Linked DNA regions of Homo sapiens: region 2 is linked to region 1. The links come from fine-mapping of genetic effects on gene expression. A gene starts in region 1. The other region holds a variant in brackets. All regions are shown on one strand. Distances are between the middles of the regions. Region 1 holds the start of IL10RA (interleukin 10 receptor subunit alpha). Region 2 overlaps SMIM35 (small integral membrane protein 35).

The links. PIP is the estimated chance that this variant, and not a neighbour inherited with it, causes the effect.
Region 2: its variant is the best candidate, but not a certain one, in a credible set for the expression of IL10RA in whole blood (TOPMed, PIP 0.52).

What each region holds. Positions count from the first base shown.
Region 1 is chr11:117,983,023-117,988,350 of GRCh38, forward strand. IL10RA (interleukin 10 receptor subunit alpha) reads left to right here and starts at 3,372. Exons shown (of 7, transcript NM_001558.4): 1 at 3,372-3,512. The coding sequence starts at 3,446. RefSeq lists enhancers at 2,800-2,859, 4,250-4,549 and silencers at 3,050-3,149, 3,170-3,449.
Region 2 is chr11:118,040,748-118,046,122 of GRCh38, forward strand. The region is part of intron 1 of SMIM35 (small integral membrane protein 35); the gene reads right to left. Among named protein-coding and RNA genes, the nearest start is that of TMPRSS4, 34 kb to the right of the region's middle. The variant G/A (reference allele first, on the strand shown) is at 3,088.

The sequences.
Region 1 (5,328 bases):
GATGTGTCCTGGTAGGCCTGCAGATATCACTCTCCCCCATCCATGTAGCTGAGGCACCCCTGCCTTCGCTGACTATCGTCAAGAGTGAGGTCTTTCTAGTCCCAATGTAGACTCTTAGATACAGGATGGGATCTCCCAACTCCCACCCCCAGCCAACCTGGCACACTTTCAGTCCAGGCCACTGGGCAGAGAGATTTCCGCTCTGAAAATATTGAAATAGGGTTTATATCTCCACAAACCATGGGGATAATGCCTCACTAACTCCTAGACCACGCACAGTGCTGGTGTCACACACCTAAGTTAGGGGCCCTTTCTCAAAAGCTGCAGTAAATAAGGCCCTCCATGTGGGCATTGGGCACTGCCAGGGAAACCTCCCAGGAGCAGGTGATAGTTACAGGAGGCAGTCAAATGCCTAGGCAGATAGGGCGGGTCCCTGGTGAAACCCCACCTCCAAGTTGAAGACAACTTAAAACCTGAAAGCCAAGCTGCAAGTTAAATCTTCAGACCAGATTGAGAACCTGTCTTCCCATTTGGCACGCTTTCCTCTGATTGATCCCCACCCTTCACCTACTTTACATACACCTACCCTTTCCTAATTGGTTTTCTACACTGTCGTACCCACCTTTGAGTGGTATTTTCACTTTAACCTTTTTTGCATACTCACAAACCAATCGGCATGCACTCCCTATTCTGAGTCCAGAAAAAGCCCTGGATCCAGCCACACTGAGAAAAAAAAACACCCAACTGTGGGAGCGGGGAACCACCCCCCTCCCCATCCCCTCTCTGCTGAGAGCTGGTCCATCACTCAATAAAATTATTCTCTGCCCATCCTCACCCTTCAACTGTCAGCGAATTCTCATTCTTCTTGAACACAGGACAAGAGCTCAGGAACAAATGAAGGTACAAACTACAATACAGGCAGGGCGGGGTATGGCCGGGTGGGTGGGGCAGCAGGCCTGGAGTGGGGCCTTGCTGGCCAGAAATGTCCTGAGCCCCTCTTCTTTGGTTTGTCTGAGAACAAGGGCAGGGCTTGAGGGATGCACACACAGTCCCAAACACACATATGCACTTGGCAAACAGACAACGTTCTCCACACCACAATGAAATCCAAATCCACAGACTGGCCACTGCAAATCATATATGACTGCAAGTGCACACACACACACACACACACACACACACACACACACACACTTTGAAGCAGGTGTCAGCCTCCAAGAAAAAGTGATGGACAGTCTGTCTCTCATATCCTCACATATTTGGTTCACCTGGAGATGGCCTCAGATGAGCCAAGTGACACAGAGGTGCGAGAGACTGAGGATGTGCTGAGGTGTTACCCAGCACTCCAGTAGTGCTATTACCCAACACAAAAATTGGTCTGAATATCAGATTTCAAGCAAGCAAGGGAAACCCAGAAGAGACTGGGAGAAGTCCTTATGGAGGCTAAAGCAACTCCATGTTGGATGCTAATCCACAGTTTTGGCCGTGTTGGCTTTGGAGCCTCCCAGAAGACCTCTGAGATTCCCAATTTATCAATTGCTCCTTGTGTAAGTGCAAACACTTACTGTAAATCCGGCCCTTAGGTCAAACAACCTTGATGTTATCATACTTCAACTGTCCTACACATCTTTTCTGAATCACCCTTCCCCTGTGGTCTATAAGCCCTGGTCCTGGGGGTGAATCATGGAGACACAAACGTAGCTTCTGTTTATAAGTCCTTATTAAATGTTTTTTTCGAAGAAACTGGATGTGTCAGCCTGTAACCTGCAAAAGGATCTGGCTGCTCTCTGCTTGTAGAAAGAATGGATAATAAAGGAAAATCTGCTAGCTGCCATGCTAGCAGGGGAAGAGCAGCAAACAATTCCACTCTTCAATTCATGGGGGGAACGCAGGGGTTTTTTAAGAAAGGATCTGAAATGCAGAAAAGGCAAGGGGGAGGTTAGGAGGTACCAGGTGGTGTGACTTGCTCCAGTGGTCCTCTTTAATTATCGTCTTATTTGGTGGAGGGGCTGGTGCAATCGTGGATCCTGCCAGGTTATAAATTAGTTACTCTTCAGCAGGGTATATGTTCAACTCCTGAAGTAAGCTTTTGTTGGAGAGAGAATTCCGGAGGTGCCTGGTCCCTATCAGGACGCAGCTCCTGAGGCATCTAAGGAAATATATGACCAGGTAAGAGCATAGCGTGTGCTTAACAAGCACGTAGGTAAATAAACGTGCGTAAGGCATGGGAGTACAGTATGGGACAGGAAAGGGAGTGGAGGTCACAGCACGTCCTGAGGCTGTGTTTTAAGATGAGAGGTAACATACATGCAGTTTGTCTCAAAATTATATCTTGAGGCCCAGAGGAGGAAGAGAAAAAAGGAAAGAAGAGAAACTAAGTTTAAAACACGGTTTAAGGCTGGGCGCGGTGGCTCACCCCTGTAATCCCAGCACTTTGGGAGGCTGAGGCGGGTGGATCACCTGAGGTCAGGAGTTCGAGACCAGCCTGGCCAACATGGTGAAACCCCGTCTCTACTAAAAATACAAAAATTAGCCCAGGCGTGGTGGCACATGCCTGTAATGCCAGCTACTCGGAAGGCTGAGGCAGGAGAATCGCTTGAACCTGGGAGACGAAGGTTGCAGTGATCCGAGATCACGCCACTGCATTCCAGCTTGGGCGACAGAGCGAGACTGTAAAAAAAAAAAATAGATAAAAAAATTTTAAAAATCGCGGTTTGAGGCTCAGCTGCTGAGCTGCTGGTTAAAAGCCTCTTTCTTGGGTCTCTCAGCTTCCTGGGACTTTGGGGGCAGGTCTGCATAAACTGCTTAGTTGTGGACCCCCCTCCAACAATTAGGTAGGGGACTACTCAGTATTCATCCATCGGTGTCCTCAGACCCCCAGACGGGGAGGCCCTGGGGCAACGCCAAGACTCACACCGGCGTCCTGGCGCCTTTGCCCTCAAGGGCCTGCAACTACCTCCTCCCCATTCGGAGCGGCCGCGGCCACATCCTTAACGCCAAGCCGGCACGCCAGGCAAAAGCGGCTCGGACGCCCTCACCCCACCTTCCGCACTCAGGGCCGAGGCTGTGCCTGGCCACCTGCTTCCCAGCACATGCACACACGCGCGCGCGCACACACCCACACACACGTACCCACGGCCGGCCGGGCTACCCGGACCACTTTGATCCGAAGGCACTGGAGGCCCAGAGGGAAGGAAAGGGAGGGGTGGCCGGAGCCCGCTAGCGCCCCAGGACAGCCTCGGGTTGCCCCAGGCGGTAGCCCTGTGGGACAGTGGTTCCCCGTCCGCGGCCTCGGGGGCGGGGCGTCTGTAGGCCTCGCCCCGCTGACGTCAGCCCTGCGGGGCGCTGGCGGAGCGGGCGGCGGAGCTGTCAGTCCCAGCCCAAGGGTAGCTGGAGGCGCGCAGGCCGGCTCCGCTCCGGCCCCGGACGATGCGGCGCGCCCAGGATGCTGCCGTGCCTCGTAGTGCTGCTGGCGGCGCTCCTCAGCCTCCGTCTTGGCTCAGACGCTCATGGTAAGGCTCCGGGACGCGGCCCTTCCCTGCCCTGCCCTCTCCGCGCCCGCTCCATTAAAGTTCTCCATCCAGTGGAGAGCCCTGGCTGGCTGGCCCTCTGGCAGAGCGGTGCCCGGGTGCTCCCTTACTCTGGCAAACCTGGATCTCAGGCTCACCTGTTGTGGAAGTGGAAGAGGCTGAAATTGACAGGAACTGACGGATTGGGAAGGATAGAGAAGTATGCGCAAGGCCAAACCCCCAACCCGCAAACCTCATCATCCACCCACTTCTAGATGAGCCGTAAGTTTAGCTCTAGGTTTTTTGCTGTTTAGGTTCAAATGATGGGACTTCTTGTCCCCTTGGGGAATAATTTTGATCTCCTGACTCTCCCTTCTCTTAGTCGACTCTTCAACTAACCTCTGTCTGTCCTTCTCCCATCTCACCTTCATCCCTCACTGATCACCCCGATCTGATCCCCCTTGCTCCACCTGTAGCCCCCAACTCACTCCCACTGCCCCCTGCCTCTCTCCTCCTAACCCAGCCAGTTCAGGCTTCTAACCCAGTTCAGGCTCCTAACCCAGACAGTTCTCCGGCAAGGTTTCTGCAACTAAGAAAAGTAAACCCCAGAGACAGAATGAAAGAGCCGGGAGTTGGAAGGACCAAGAGCAGAGACAGAGAGCAAGGACCGAAACTGCTTCTTCATGACACCAAAATACAAAGTAAAACATGCAGTCAGCCATTCACGTGATCGAGAGCTGAGTCGGAGATGTGCAGCCCAAATACCACAACGACTCGCTGCATTTTTCACTTTCCGTCTAATGTTTCGAAATCAAGGCACTGACGTGAAGATCAAAGACGGTATAAGAAAGAAAGCAAGAGACAGATGACAGAGTCCTCCCCCCCAAAAAATAAATAAAAAACAGGTGCATGATTAGAGAGATGTAGAGAAGTTAGAACACTAGGGAGCGGGAGCAGAGTCGCTGTCAAATGGAGAGAACTTAGAGGATCAAGGAGGAGAGAAAGGGAACCAACCAGCCGTTGGCCTTGCACATACTTCAGTCTGCTTGATCAACAAGACTCTTAAAGTAGAAATGTTTGTTGCATTCTTACAAAGAAGACAATGCCTTCAGCAGTGTTTCCCATGGTGAATGGTGTGTACTGGGGGTAAAGGGAGAGTAGAGCTAGGAATTGGTATTGAGTATCTCTCCTCGGAGCTACAGGTGCCAGCTCTTGTGGGGATGTCCTCAGCCATGTGTAGAGCCAGAGCTGATTTATTCCATCTGTCCTTGCCCAGCCAGAGGTTGGACATCTGGCTATAGGCAAAGCCCTCCCAGAAACTAGGGAATGAGGCAAGCACTTAGCTTGGGGAGCCCAGGAGACCTATGAAGAGAAGGAGGCAGATGTCAGCAAGCAGGCTGTCTGTGTACTTAGTGAGGTGGCTTTGAGCTGGAGCCTGGGCCAAGCCAGGGTGGGGATCAGGTGTGTGGATGGGGCCAAGCCTAGGAATAGTGCTAGAGCAGGGACAGGGATTGGGCAGAGCCAGGGACTAACACATCTGAGAGCTCATTGCCAACTTGCTTAGCCCTCGGCCCCTGCCTTCTTCCCTGGTAGGCATCAGACTCAGCTTGGCTCTTCTCAGCCCCCACTGCAGCTTCTGATCACAGAGAGCACAGGGCAGTGATTTAGGGAGACACACTAGCTCTAGAATCAGACACATGTGGATTCATGTGCCCACTCTGCCCCTTACGGGCTCCGCTGGCCTCGGGCGAGTCATAGCCTCTCTGAACCTCCCTTTCTTCTTTGGTAAAATTGGGGTCATCAATGCCTGCCCCCCCTC
Region 2 (5,375 bases), 58 kb after region 1:
ATGTAAAATACATAATGTAAGGTTAGGCCTATAACATATACAAATGTAATATTTTTGTTAATAATAGCACTAAGGGGTGGATGGGAGCAAAGCAGTATAAGCAAAGGACATGACTGTAGTTGATAAACTAATAATTATAACAATATATTGCTGAGTTTGTAACATTAATAGATGTGACATATGTATAACAAAAATATATTGCATAATATAATAATATATAATGTATACCATATATAACAATAATACACAAAAGAGGAGAAGAGACTAGAGCTACATAGGAGTAATATTTCTATACATCACTGGTATTAAGCTATCTGAAGTGACCTCTGGTAAGCTAAGATGTACATGGTAAATCCTAGAGTAACCACTTAAAAATAGTGAAAAAATAATTAAAACATTAAGCATCAAAATACATGAAGCAAAAACTGGCAGAAATGAAGGGAGAAATAGAAAACTCAACAATAATAAGTGAAAGCTTCAAAATTCCACTTTTAATATTGGATAGAATAACTCAATAGAAGATCAAGGAAATAGAAGATTTGAACAACACTACGGACCAACTACACCTAACAGACATCTGTAAAACACTCCACTCAACAACAAAATATGCATTCAAGTGTACATAAAACATCCCCTGGATAGACCATATGCCAAGCCGTAAAACAAACCTCAATAAAATTTAAAGAATAAAAATAATACAAAGTATATTCTCTGACCACAATGAAATAAAATTAGAAATCAATAGCAAAATAAATGGGAATAATTCTACAAATATGTGGAAATTAAACAACACACTCCTAAATACGACCTATAACCAATGGATCAAGGAATAAATCAAAAGGGAAATTTAAAAAACTTGGAGATGAATGAAAATAAAGACCCGGTACACCAAAACTTGTGGGATGCAATGATCAGAGAAAAATTTATATTTGTAAATGCCTACTTTAGGAATGAAGGAAGATCTCACATCAATGGCCTAATCTTCCAGTTAATCTTCTAAGACGCTAGAGAAAGAAACACAGGCCGGGCACAGTGGATCATGCCTGTAACCCCAGCACTTTGGGAGGCCGAAGTCGGTGGATCACTTGAGGTTGGGAGTTCAAGACCAGCCTGGCCAACATGGTGAAACCCTGTCCCTACTAAAAATACAAAAATTAGCTGGGCATGGTGGCAGATGCCTGTAATCCTAGCTACTCGGGAGGCTGAAGCAGGAGAATAGCTTGAACCTGGGAGGTGGAGGTTGCAGTGAGCCAAGATTGCACCACTGCTCTCCAGCCTGGGCAACAGAGTGAGACTCTGTCACAAATGAAAAAAAAAAAAAAGAGAGAGAGAGAAAGAAAGACAAACTCAACTACAGCAAGCAGAAGAAAGGAAATAAAGCTTAGAGTGGAAACTAATAAAATAGAAAATAAACAATAGAGAACACTAACAAACAAAAAATTGGCATAAGATCAACAAAACTGACAAACCTTTAGCTAAGTTAACCAAGAAAAAAAAAGACTCAAATTACTAGAATCAGAAATGAAAGAGGGGACATTGTTGTCAACGTTACAGAAACAAACATAATAAGAAATACAATGAACAGTTGTACACCAACAAAATAGATAACTTAGATGAAATAGACAGATTCCTAGAAATACACAAACCACCAAAACTGACTCAAGAAGAAACAGATGATCTGAATAAGTATAACAAATAAAGAGGCTGAACTAGCAATAAAAAATAATACCCACAAGAAAAACCCAAGCCTAATTAGCTTTCCCACTGATTCTGCCAAACATTTAAAGAAGAATTAATATCAGTTATTCACAAACTCTTCCAAAAAATAGAAGAGGCTAAACACTTCCCAACTCATTTTATAAGGCAAATATTACCCTGATGTCAAAACCAGACAAGGACATCACAAGAAAAGAAAACCAGAGAAAAAATATCTCTTATGAATATGGACGCAAAAATCCTCAACAATTAGGAATGATTGTATGTGGAAAAAGAATAAAGAATCCTCAACAAAATACTAGCAAACCAATTCCAGCAGTATCTAAAAATAAGTATACATCATAACCAAGCTGGATTTCTCCCTCGAGAGCAAGATTAGTTCAGCATCTGAAAATCAATTCTTGTAACACATCGTACCAGTAGAATTTTTTAAATCACATGATGATCTCAATAGATGCAAAAAAAGCATTTGACAAAATCAAACACTCTTTCATGATAAAAACACTCAACAAACTAGGAACAGAAGAGAACTTCCTCAACCTGACAAAGAGCCTTTATGAGAAACCCACAGCAATCATGCTAAATGGTAAAAGGCAGATGTTTTCTTCCTAGGATCAGTAACACGACGAAGATGTCTGGTCTCACCACTTCTGTTCAACATTGTACTGGAGGTTCTAGCCAGGGAAATAGTCAAGAAAAAGCAATAGAAGGTATCCAGATTGGAAAGGAAGAAATGAAAATATCTCTGTTCACAGATAACACAGTCTTACATATGGAAAATCCTCCTCCTTGAAGTCTGGGTATTTGGTAAAACATTTTTTTTTTTTTAAAGAAAATCTTAAGGAATCCACAGACAAATGTATAAACAGAATGTGGTATATCCATATAACAGAATATTCGGTCATATAAAGAAATGAAGTATTGATACATGCCACTTGAATGAACCTCAAAAACATTATGCTAAGTGAAAAAAGCCAGTCACAGAAGTCCACATATTATATGATTCTATTTATACAAAATATCCAGAAAATCTATAGAGGAAAATCTATAGAGAAAGAAAGTAGAGGCTGGGCGCAGTGACTCACACCTGTAATTCCAGCACTTTGGGAGGCTGAGGCGGGCCGAACACGAGGTCAGGATTTCAAGACCACCCTGGCTAACACAGTGACACCCTGTCTCTACTAAAAATACAAAAAATTAACTGGGCGTGGTGGTGGGCGCCTGTAGTCCCAGCTACTCGGGAGGCTGAGGCAGGAGAATCGCTTGAACCCGGGAGGTGGAGTGAGCCAAGATCGCACCACTGCATTCCAGCCTGGGCGACAGAGAGAAACTCCATCTCAAAAAAAAAAAAGGAAAAGAAAAAGAAAGTAG[G/A]TTATGGGGGGGCCAGGGGAAGTGGGGAGAAAAGGAGGGGGTTATCTTAGCTAAAGGGTATGGGTTTTTTTTTTAGGCGATGAAAATGTTCTAAAATTGACTGTAATGGTGGCTGCAGATATGCATGAATATATTAAAAACATTAAATTATATACTTCTAATGGGAGAATTGTATGTTATGTGAATTATATCTAAACAAAGCTGTTAAAAAAGCGATAAAATGCCAACCTATATTTATCTCTGTCTAAATTATCCCCTGGAGAGAAGGAGTTCCTAAATCCTTAAACTTGAAGAAGTGCATTGAAATGCATTTTCTATAATCCAGGTTTCCTGCAGATATGTAACACTCAAAACCCATGCAAAAAGCAGAGGTATCAAGATCCTTACACTTAGGTAAGAATCTACCCTAATTGTACTTATCTATCCATCTACTCATATTCCAGAAACCAAATCTTAGTCACTGAGAAGTCTGGCAGAATTGAAAAAAAAAAAAAAAAAATGCAGCCGTGAGTACGTGCCAAGCAGCATGAAGGTAATGGTGGCATTATGCACCTTACTATTTACCAAGCCATTTGGATGAACTGACCTAAAGCCAGGAGATCTTGCAAATGGTCATCCCACCGCCCATCTAAATCATGATTTCTCTCCAGATGCCCCTCCAACTCCCATTTAAAGTTCCTTCTAGGATGGGTGCGGTGATTCATGCCTGTAATCCCAGCATTTTGGGAGGCTGAGGGTGGGCAGATCACTTGAGGTCAGTGAAACCCTGTCTTTACTAAAAATACAAAAATTAGCCAGGCGTGGTGGCGGGCACCTGTAATTCCAGCTACTCCGGAGGCTGAGGCAGGAGAGTTGCTTGAACCCATGAGGCAGAGGTTGCAGTGAGCCGAGACTGCACCACTGTACTTTAGCCTGGGCAAGAGTGAGACTCCATCTCCAAAAAAAAAAAAAAAAAGTTCATTCTACTAAAAAAAAAACAAAACAAACAAACAAACAAAAAACCTCCTAGTTTGATCACTTAGAAGAAACCTCCAGCAGGTGATTGGACATCTCTAGCTTTTAGATTATACTGACAAGGAACTTTAAAACAAAACAAAACAAAAAATGAAGAAGCAAGCAGCACAACCCCCTGGAAGATTAGCAACACATCAAACAAAATCAGAAGGAAGTTCTAAAACTCAAAACCTAAGTACAACAGACCCTAGTGGGAGGCCCTAGGCTTTACTATTAGGATCAATGGTGGAGGCAGATGTGGAGATGATATTGCCCAAGGTCCAGGTTTGGCAAGAAAAATGGAACATTTTCATCTCCATTGGCTTCTAGGCCCCCTCACCCTCAATACATCAGGTTTTATGGAGCCTACACTTTTCTCCAGCTGGAATCAAGAATTCCTCCTTTGTTGCTCATCTGTTGCTCATCAATTCCACGTTTTAAAGATCAGTTCAAGTTGCAGAAGAATAGATATCACATAATTCTAGTTATGGTATACACACATGCACACACACACACACACACACACACACACACTAGAGAGAGAGAAAGGCTGTCACCAAGTTGCGGTTCTCCCTATGATTAAGGCAAGTCAGGGCAGGTGTAAAGCAGGTGATGATAGGGTTTATGAAGAACCAGGGGAGTGGGGTAGGGAGTAGAAGTAAAAAGAGCCTTTCAAGTTTTGCCTTAGTATTAGCTTGAACCATATAAAATTGTCATTTTTAAAGGTCAAAAACAGGTATCATCAATTTCACATGATTTTCATCTTTTGCAATAGAAATATTTGTGTGATGAATAATATTGCTGAAGAAAACAAACCAATCACATAACAATAAAAAATCAAGTATCTCCTGTTTGAAACTAGACCCATTGGTTTGTTTACTGCTCTCTAAACTTTACCTTCACTCTCTCTCTGATAATGTACAGCTCTGAATCTTTCAACCCAGTATAATGAATGAACAGACAGCAGATTTCAGGCAGATCTTTTTAACTCTTGACCATCGGGATATTTGCTTTAGCAGTGTGTGATGACGGAAAAAGACTTGGAGCCAGGCCATCTGGAAGCTAAAATATCATTACTCTGGGCAAGATTGAGTTTTAATCCTCTCTTATGTTGAAATGGGGATTAAAATATTAACTTCACAAGGTTAACGTGAAGATTAAGTGAGACGTGTATGTGAAAGGAGAGTTATATGGCTCCTGACACATGGTAGATATTCAATAAGTTATTTTCCTTCACTTAGAGTGAAATTTTCTAGAACAGCATAGAGTGTTGGCAGCTCTTCAATAATTTATCA